2 separate regions of the Homo sapiens genome follow, and region 1 is linked to region 2. The links come from fine-mapping of genetic effects on gene expression. A gene starts in region 2. The other region holds a variant in brackets. All regions are shown on one strand. Distances are between the middles of the regions. Region 1 overlaps HGF (hepatocyte growth factor). Region 2 holds the start of HGF (hepatocyte growth factor).

Region 1 (5,385 bases), 25 kb after region 2:
ATCAGCCTCCCGAGTAGCTGGGACTACAGGTGCCCACCACCACACCTGATTAATTTTTTTATATTTTTAGTAGAGACGGGGTTTCACCGTGTTAGCCAGGATGGTCTCGATCTCCTGACCTCGTGATCCGCCCATCTTGGCCTCCCAAAGTGCTGGGATTACAGGCGTGAGCCACCGTGCCTGGCCAGAACTTTTATAATAGATCCTGTTATCTAGAAAGTTGCAGAGCAAAGTGAGGTCCAAGTACCAGCAACAGCAGCAATGCCTGGGAGCTTGTTATTAGTGCCCCAGCCCAGACCCACTGACTCAGAACTTGCCTCTTAACAGGATCTCAAGGAGGTTTTTGCACACATTCATATTTGAACAAGCATTGATCTGCCACACTCATAATGGAAAGTGGTCATCTTATGGAACCATCTGTTTCATTCATGTAGCTATTTTTTCTTAAAACCATTAAAATGTGTAAGTCAAGGAAAAATTTTTATAATACTGCTCAATGTAGTGATTACCAGAAAATAATTCTATTCACCCTCGTTAGAAAGGAATATACTATCACAAGCTGCATTTGCTGAAGGAGGCATAATAGATGTAATCTCTTTCCTGAGTACTATACAAGAGTAGAAATTGTACATATGAATACTTATCTTTTATGTGTGACCCTAGTACTCTATTGTACATTTCATCCAACACGAAGGAACAAATAACGATAAATGCTGCATCATTTTCTTTGACGGTATCAAAATTTGTGTTCTTTAAAAAAAGAGAGAGATACCTAAATGAACCTGTTAAGCATTCAAATGGAAAGCTGAAATGTAACATTGCATCACCTATGTTGAGCACTGCTATGACCCTGGCCAACCTGAGCACCTTTATTGATATGCTCATGGACTCCACTCATTTACAGTTCAGGTGCTTATTGGGTGTAGTCTGGAAAATCTCAGTATCAAATGAAGGGAAGCCGAGTTGGCCTCTTAGCTAATGTATTAATATAAATGAAGGAAAGCAGATGGATCAAGCCAAGTTGTTGCATGTTTCAGAAAGTTAATAGTTAATGTCCCTATTAGATTATAAGAATCAAGGATTCAAAAGTGATGATTCTAATACTATAATCCCAAATTACTACAAATACTCATTAGGCTAGATTCCGTTGGATAAAACTAAACATTGATGCCTCTTCCCACTTCAGCTAAAGTTAGATGATCAGTAATTGCAAGATACAAATGATGTGTTTAAGGAAGTTTGCCTGATTCATAGGAAAGCCAAGCAATGATTTATTCCACAGGATGCTTTCTGTGCTACAAATCAACCTGTCTGTTTGAGAAGTCTCACTTTCAGCAATTGATGTGATTCAGTTTTCTGTGTGACATAAGAGGCCAGCCAGAAGAGAACAATGAATTAACCTCACAAAATCATCAGTAAGAGCCTACCTAATTACATTAGCTTATACATTTTAAAAAGAGTGGGAACATGGAGTTCAATAGCAGGTCATCTTCTATCCTAAGCCAGACAGGAATGTAAACCTGCCCAGCTTATTCAACATGGATGTTCGCTAACAGAAAGGAGCTGTGATTTATTTTTTAAAAATATCCGTATTCTTTGAATTGCACCAGATTTCTATATGAAGCCAGTCTCTTAAATCTATGTGGTCTTGATTATGTCATTAACCATAAAAGTATGACACAAACTCAATTAAACTTTGTATTTCCTGTGTATGTATTTGGAGGGCAAATTGAGAGAGAAACACTATTGTGCTGACAAATAGATACTGAGATCTTTGCATTTTAGACCAACACGGGAAAAATTTCCAAGGATCTGTCTTTTATTTCCATTTTCTAGATACCTTTGAGACAGTTATTGAAAAAATAGATAGACAGCGTCGTGGCCCTATAGTAAATCTGTGTGACACTAAGTACAAAAATCCCACTTAAACTGTATGATGTGTTCTATAGGGAGTAGTTTATGTCACTATTTATAGACATTAGGCCCTAATAAAAAGTTAGAATGATGTGTAGGATTTTTTAAAAATCTGTTTACTAAACAGGTGCTGTTCTTTAAATGCAACAGTGGTGTTTTTGATTTTGCTGTCAGAAACAATTAACATGCCATACTTTAATTTTATTAGTTGAATGCATGACCTGCAATGGGGAGAGTTATCGAGGTCTCATGGATCATACAGAATCAGGCAAGATTTGTCAGCGCTGGGATCATCAGACACCACACCGGCACAAATTCTTGCCTGAAAGGTAAAATATTAATGAATCATGCTTTCAGTGATTCTTTTACAAACTATTATTCACTCTATGACACACTGCTGTGGAAATTCTCTTTATATTATGTTTTCCCGATAGGACATGAACATAACATTTAGAACTCCCAGAATGTTCAGGAGTTCTTCTGACAGAATTTCTGGCCATTATATTTGGAGGAAATAGTCTAAGGGCAAAAAGATTTATGATGAGGTACATGAGAACACTGACTACATAGCCAACTGGTCAGAGTTTCTAAAATCAGCATGGTACTGAACACAAAATCATCAGCAGGGTATAGAGTGGAAGCACAAAAAGAAGCTTCTTTCTCTCTCAGAGCAGAAACAAAACAAAACCAAAGCAAACCACAGGACCAATTCAGTAATGACCACTTTGACAAGTCTTAGCTGTGATTAGAGGTATTGTTACTAATTGCAGGCAAATCTCCTTCTGGAGCAGCATCTTCAGAGACTCAGGTACTGCAGGCCACACACATAACAGCATGACATAAGTAGTGGTCATAGGGAGTAAAAAGTAGAGCAAACCATTCAGGTTGCTTTGTCCTGGTGTGTTTTGAAATTGCCCATATAAAAAGCCAATTTGGAGAAGTCAGGCAACTAATCTATCTTTTATCCCCAGGAATAGGTTTTGAGCTTAAATTATTACCCATCTCCGCCAAAAAAAAAAAAAAAATCATGTCTACTTTTGCCCATGTATTTTACATGAAACTTTTAAGGTGGAAAAAAAAGGAAGAAGTTCATTTATTTTGATTATAAAGAATAAAAATACAAATAATTA[C/T]ACAGGAAATTCCGTCCCCCACCTTTCTTTGGAAATTGCTGTTAGGTGTTTTTTCTTTGTTCTTTTTCTCTATTCTTTTTTGTTTGGTGTTATTTTTAATGAAATTAAAACTCCAGCTTATTTTCCAAATAAATGCTTGTCTTGTCGTTTAAGTGAGAGCAGAAGGGATATGGTAGCAATTAAAATCAAGTCACCAATTCAGGACTCTGTTCATTTGAAGGGAGGTGGGGTGTGGAGAAAGTAGTGTGATGAAGTTTGTCTCATGATCTGGTGAAGGTGAGGGCATGACCTCGAAGGGCTCTATTTCCAAAACTGAGTTATCATTAGTAACAGCGCTATTGAAACTGAACTTTCAGTTTGAACTTTAAGCCTTCCCTAGAAGAGGACCTGTTTTCTTAATGAGCATTCTACATGAAGTCATGTTTTTGTAATCTGCCCTTAAGTGGGTTCTAAGAGAAAGAGACTCGATTTGGAACCTCAGCTAGTGGAAAGGTACCACATAGACCTAACTTATTAGCCAGGGGATGATACTCTGTCCTTAGTGGGATATATAAATTAGTAGATTCAATAGTCAGTGATCAGCAGTCCTCGTAAGGCAAAACATAGAAAACGTCCTCTTTCCCCAGCTAGGTGTAGACAACCTAAGTGGAAAGTTATTTTGTGAGCTGAGGGGTGGGTGGTGTTTCCAGGCAGATTTACGTGACACTTTTCTTGGTGTGGTTTGCAGATATCCCGACAAGGGCTTTGATGATAATTATTGCCGCAATCCCGATGGCCAGCCGAGGCCATGGTGCTATACTCTTGACCCTCACACCCGCTGGGAGTACTGTGCAATTAAAACATGCGGTAAGTGAAGGTCAAATTTATTGCTTCCTTTTCCTCTCACAGACTGGATCTAAGCAGGCGATTATTAGTGAGACAGGTTAACAACTATTTAACTTGATGCTTTAATGTGTGCAGGTTTTAATATTTTAAGAATGTGTTACATAATCCTACCCAATCTTTTGCATTTTTGGAGACTGATTATTTTGACTGTGATAAATATGCAAATACACACATCCATAGAAAACATTTTTACTTATGGCAAGAGCCTAAACATTCTAATGTTATCAAGAAAATTTAAAAAACCACAGAGAGAGAAAAAGATCGGAAATGTGTGCAGCATCACAAAGTCATTAGGGGAGTAAAAGCTAGGACCTTAGTTCCTTACCTTCCAATCCTGTATCCTTTACCTACCTTTCCTCCCCAGAGACATAACATGGGCTCTCAACTGATGGTGAACTTCTTCTGGTGAGTGACAGAGGCTGCAGTGAAGAATAATGAGTCTAATAGAAGTTTATCACAGATGTCTCTAATCTTTATAGCTGATCCCTACCTCTCTCGCTGTCTTTGTACCCAGCCTGCATTCTGTTTCGATCTGTCTTTTAGCAGTCCATACAATCATTTTTCTACATGCTGGCCCTTACCTAGCTTTTCTGAATTTACAATAAAAACTATTTTTTAACGTGTTTTATATTGTTCCTTTCAATCTGTGAACTTGGTCCTCTCCTCTATGGTTAAGTCACACATTTTCACTGTTCTCTTAAACAATATTACATAATGTTTTCATTTCTTTGAATACAGGGCTAATTTTTTTCAACTGGATATTAAAATTCTTTAAAATCAATAGAATTGCATAAATTTAGTAAGGTATAATAATGTTATAAATTGGCCTGATAATATAAAGTTATGTATATATGGACAGACATGTAAAGCTAAATAACCTACATAAGATCAGGCACCAGCACCTAGAGTAAAATATATAATTAAGAGGGCATGGATTGATTTTCATATATTTCACTATAGCAGAATGATGGGGAAGTTCCTCTGAACAAACCTAACTGAATATTATCCACACTATGGTACTGCCGAGGTAAATCTCTCTCAATCTAGACCTGCTAATAAAAGGAAATGTTTTGGACAACTCTTAATACTTTGGACAACAATAAATAACTGAAGAATCTGGAAGCCTTTCAGAGTAAAACACTGTGTTCCAAGGAAATTGAATCATGTGTTTTGTCCTTTAAAATAAAAGATGACTCCTGTGACAGTGTTTCTCTGCATAGATTGGGTTGGTTCCACTCATTGCTTTTTAAATTGTATTAGTCTTTCCATTGTTCTACACCAGTTAGGTATAATAAACCAACTGTTTCCCTTCTGATTTTTTGTGTGTGTATGTATGTGTGGTTTAGGTACTCTTTTTTTTTTTTTTTTTTTTTTTGAGATGGAGTTTCACTCTTGTTGTCCAAGCTGGAGTGCAATGGCACAATCTCAGCTCGCCACAACTTCCGCCTCCTGGGTT
Region 2 (5,385 bases):
TCCATTTTTATGCTTAGGTTCAACAAAGTGTGGGCAGGTGTGGAGAAATACAACTGGACAAAAGGAATATGATCTCATGCTAACAGACTGAGTGGGGACGCCTGGCAAGGTGAGATTCTTCCTGGTATCTCTGTGCAGTACTCATTCCTTCTGGGTATGGGGCAGGACCTTCTTTGGAATGGGGTCTTATGAGCTACGATCAAACAAGGTAGGTCAGATAATGTCTTTATGGCCAGATTTCACACAGAAAGTTGAGGTGTTAGAGTGATATGCTTAGGTTTTATGGCTGGTTTGGGAAAAAGGGTTCTGGTTTCTAGGAGCCACCTTGGGAAAGAGGGATTCTAGTTTCTATGCCTCGCCTTGGGGGAGAATGAAGGGCCGGAGACTGGAGAGCAGGAGAAGGTCAGAGAGAGCTGATTCTGAGGTCTTCATTTGGGGTATCATTTTTCTGAGCCCCTACACCCTAATAAAGCACAAGAGATGCAGTGGAGCAATTCAGGGTCACGGTCAGGCTATGCATTGAACTGAGATTTCCCAAAAAGTCTACTGAACAGTAAAAAGAAAGTAAAATGGATCCTGGGGACACCAGACAGAGGCTGACAAATGATTTTTAAGTAAGGAGAAAATGATAAAAGAGAAGGATTAGCAATAGAAACGGGTCATATAAAATAGATCCCTCAAAAGGAATTCTCTTAATCCCTAGCTTCTCTAGATATCCCACAACCTCAGGGACTTATCAGGCAGGTTGTTTTTCCCTGAAAGTGGGGGTAAGGGAGCTGGAGGACAAATGAAGGTGGTATGTGGAGGGAAGGCTGTTCTGTGGATGAGTTTAATTCAGCCCCACAATCACTTCTGTACAGCTACCCACCGCTCTAGTCATTCCCACATTTGGCCTGCTTTCTTTTCCTCTGTGGACAGGGGCACTGTTCTCTACTAATATCCATCTCAGAGAGATACAGGGGCAAGTATCCCTCAGCATCCATTAGAAATAAAGCAGGCTCTTGCTTAAAGTTACCAGAGCATCCACCTCTGGGTGCAAAGACAAATTCTCTGAATCAAGTGAGGGGTCTGGGCAATGATCTCACAAGGATTTGATACCTAGGAGTCCCCCCATGCCCATACAAGCTCCTCATCTTTCCACTTACACTTTGGGAAGCTGGCTGTCGTGTACAGGCAGATGAAGCTGGAAAAGAGAGGCATATTCAGTACTCACGAATTCAAACAGCTTGAGGGATTTCCGGTGAAAGTCAGTCCTAACCAGTGTATACGTACATACACACCAACATGTGTGAATGTGTTGTGTGCACGTGTGTGCCTGTACAAGTCCACATGGCATATTTACCTGTCAGGGACAGGCTATGGACAATGACTGTTTCTTGGACTTTCTCTTAAAAAGTCAGATCAGACAAGTTTATTTTGTATACTTTGGGTAAATGTGTGGTATTTCGTGAGTTTGGCAGTTTGTGAAAAAAAAAAAAAAAAAAAAAAAAAAAAAAAGCTGCCTGCTCTGAGCCCATGGGGCAGGGGCAATTTTTTCATCTGACAATCTGCGTGCTTTTGTTTTGCTTGCTTATTTTGGCCCCACAATACCACACCCTTTTCTTAACTAACCTCTTTCTACCTGGGCTGGACGTGCCTGGGCTCTCCTCCCTGGCCCCGCTCCCACCTCTCCCAGGTCTCTAAACCCCTAGAGAACCTGTGTCAGTGTTTTGAATCCCTCAGTTGCTCTAGCAGGAAAACTAGACAGATTAGGAGCTGGGGCACATTTGGCTGAAAGACAGCTCTTCGCTTTCTTCTTATGCTGCTTCCCCTTCCTCTTTTCCCAAATAGATATATAAACACATGTATTTTCCTGTTTAAATTGAGCGAATTGGTCCCCTGCCTGTGCCTTGATTTAGCCATTGGGCTCAGCCTTGCTCCTCCCTTCCTTACTCGGATAGGAGCCACTGGGATCTGGAGCTCCAGCTTCCAAATTGAAGCTGGCCTCAGGCCAGGTGACCTTTTCTTTGTAAGTTTCTTTCCTAAGCGTGGGGTTGGGGGGAGGCGGGGAATGGGGGGGGTTGCAGGGATCTGTTTGGTGCTGTTGAAGGGGGGGCGAGTGAGGAAAGGAGGGGGCTGGAAGAGAGTAAAGGGCTGTTGTTAAACAGTTTCTTACCGTAAGAGGGAGTTCAGACCTAGATCTTTCCAGTTAATCACACAACAAACTTAGCTCATCGCAATAAAAAGCAGCTCAGAGCCGACTGGCTCTTTTAGGCACTGACTCCGAACAGGATTCTTTCACCCAGGCATCTCCTCCAGAGGGATCCGCCAGCCCGTCCAGCAGCACCATGTGGGTGACCAAACTCCTGCCAGCCCTGCTGCTGCAGCATGTCCTCCTGCATCTCCTCCTGCTCCCCATCGCCATCCCCTATGCAGGTTAGTTCCCTTCTTCTTCTTCATTATTAGTATTAGTATTTAACTCTCCTGCTAACCTTCCCTATTCCTTTTAACACCCTCTTTTTACCCTATTCCCAGCATCCTTTCTGAACTCAGTATGTAGTATAGGTTTCTAAAAGCTCTCATTATGCTTTTTTTGACATTCTTTTTTGTTGTTGTTTGAATAGCATTTAAAATGATAATTAACTTTCCCTCAACTCCCCTCCACCTCCAACCCAAGCCCCGTCCCACTTAGCCTAATAGTTGTGGATTATGAGATAGGGAGGAAGTGCTAATACTGGCTGAACTTGGCTGCTTTGGACAAGTTTAAAGCTAAAGAGAGGGTCTGGTCTGAAGAGGCAAGAGTGATGGTCAGTCCGGCAGGAAGTCATCCTTTTCCAGAGAACAATTTTTCATGATAATGCACTACTCCACATCACCTAGTCAACATTTGGAGCCAAATTACGACTTTGTACAGGTTTTCATTTTGAGGAGGCAGAATAAACTCTGAGTATTTGCATATCATAAAAATGAAAGAGAAAGCCTCTTTTTAAAGATCTTATTCTTTCTGGGTACGGATGCCTGCCCTTTGAAACTGCAGTGCACGGAGACTTTGATTAAAGCTGCAGAACTGCCCATCTCTGTCTCCCACTTTCTCCCTTGGATTTGCCGTTTGGGGAGGAGTTGCTTGAAAGTTCATATTGCTTGGAGATTTAGAGATCTCGTTTGCTGCTCTGGGAAGTTTCTCTTGTTATCAGGGCAAGAGGAAACATCTGTATTTTGTTGTATCATTGTAGAGGCTGAGGTGCCAACGGGAGAAGGCAGTGAATATCAAGGGTAGGCGCAGGGGAATAAAAGAGTGGGAACAAATGCCCAGATGGAGACATGGCCTTTTTACAATATAAAAAAGAGAACTGGCTGTATCTTTTGAGATGGTAAATATGACATTTATCAGACCTTTGATCTAGTTTTTGATATGGTACAAGGGTTAAAAAACTCAAGAATTTTCTAAATGCAAAGGAAAATCATTCAACCCACCTGGTTTTCTTTTATTTTGTGAAGTGGCCCGTTTGGAAAATGACACTGTTTGGAAAGGGTCACTCTGAAAGCATTTAGGTAAGATTTCTGAAGAAGTGAAAAAGCAGTGAGTTCAAATCAAGCAGGTTATCATGCTTGACATGTGTCATGTTAAAATCGCTTCACAGGGTCGGGTGCGGTGGCTCACGCCTGTAATCCCAGCACTTTGGGAGGCCGAGGCGGGCAGATCACGAGGTCAGGAGATTGAGACCATCCTAGCTAACAAGGTGAAACCCTGTCTCTACTAAAAATACAAAAAATTAGCCAGGCGTGGTGGCAGGCACCTGTAGTCCCACCTACTTGGGAGGCTGAGGCAGGAGACTCTCTTGAACCTGGGAGGTGGGGGTTGCAGTGAGCCGAGATTGTGTCACCGCACTTCAGCCTGGGGAACGGAGCAAGACTCCATCTCAAGAAGAAGAAGAAAAAAATGCTTCACAGATGACTGCTGGTTTAGGGGATTTTGAGCTTAAATTGAAATAATGGCTAATATTTTGAGGGTTTTCATTTTTAAAGATTAAAATGTCACTGTTCTTAAGTAGAATCTGGTTACCTGAATTCATCTGTGCTAACGCAAGGGGAACGCAGTGTGGAAAACCCAAACAGTAGATCAACCGTAGGCAGTGTCTATTTGTTTTCGGCATGCATTATGAACTTTTGGCAGGAGACATACATTTGTAATTATATTTCACTTTGCCTAATGTAGAAATGACTGTGTTTCCTGAGTACAGGCAGAATGCAGCCCAAGAGTGCTGGCAGGCAAGGAGAGTCCAGTTGGGAATTACAAATATGCTGTGAATAATTCCTGAAGTGGATAATTCTAAAATTGTCATCAAAGGAGGGTGCGCCTTTGTTTAGATGGCCAGTTTGATAGTTTTTTTTAATAACCTTTAAAATAAAAAATATGGGTAGCCTCTTAGAACACACAAAGTTTGTTCTTTTTTAAATGACATTTAATATTGACTATTTAGAGGTTTCTTTTGTTGTTACTAGCTTTGATTATAATTATTTATTCTATGAATTTATATTTGTATGTATTGTAAAATAACACATTGTTAGGAAAGAAGTATATACTGTAAGTTGACAACCAGTTATCAACAGAATACACTATGGAGATACTTTTTTAAAAGCTTAAGAAATATTCAATATAATGGGCCCCCGCCATCTTTGTAGGAGTTAGCCTATATAGAATTACCCTCTATTCACTCCCACCTACATGGGAAACAAATATCCAATCCTCTGTAATAAAAGAAGCATTAAATGAGCACCTAATATTCAAGAGTATGTGGGGGATGTAAAGATGAACAAATAAGAAAGGAACTTAAATTTGTTGAGCAACTGATATGAACCAAGTAGTAAAGTACATCTCACTTAATTCTAATAAGATTGGCACTATTGGACTCATTTAGCCGGTTCAAAGACCTCAGTTATCTTATTTCTTTGTGAGTTAAGGGACAGAGCTGAGATTTCTACCCAAATGTATGTGAATGAACTATGTGGTGTTTTTTTTTTTTCTTTTTTCATTTATATTGAAGCGAGCAGCAGTGAAATCAACTGAAATTTACTTAAAAAAAATCATTTGGCCAAGTGATATATTTTCAAAAAACCCTGTTAGAAATACTTTGTACTATGGTTGAGAGTTCATTTTCAGCATAGAGAATCAAACCAGGTGAAGGGGTTATATGGTACTGAAGTCCATATGAAAAGATGGATGGTAGAATAGTCAGTATCTTAGCACAGGATCACAAGTGGCCCAAGGTACAGAGGTTCGTAAGTATAAGGAATGTCCCAGGAAGGACCCCACACAGCAACTGAAGGCAAGCATTTGAGGCAGAAGTATTGGGCATGTGATGGGGAATATTGTCTGTGAGTGGAAAAGTAAGATGAGGTAGAATG

Evidence for each region. PIP is the estimated chance that this variant, and not a neighbour inherited with it, causes the effect.
Region 1: its variant is the best candidate, but not a certain one, in a credible set for the expression of HGF in whole blood (TOPMed, PIP 0.54).

The regions. Positions count from the first base shown.
Region 1 is chr7:81,741,858-81,747,242 of GRCh38, reverse strand. It overlaps HGF (hepatocyte growth factor), which reads left to right. Exons shown (of 18, transcript NM_000601.6): 6 at 2,123-2,243; 7 at 3,772-3,890. Among named protein-coding and RNA genes, the nearest start is that of HGF, 25 kb to the left of the region's middle. The variant C/T (reference allele first, on the strand shown) is at 3,045.
Region 2 is chr7:81,766,914-81,772,298 of GRCh38, reverse strand. HGF (hepatocyte growth factor) reads left to right here and starts at 2,252. Exons shown (of 18, transcript NM_000601.6): 1 at 2,252-2,415. The coding sequence starts at 2,328.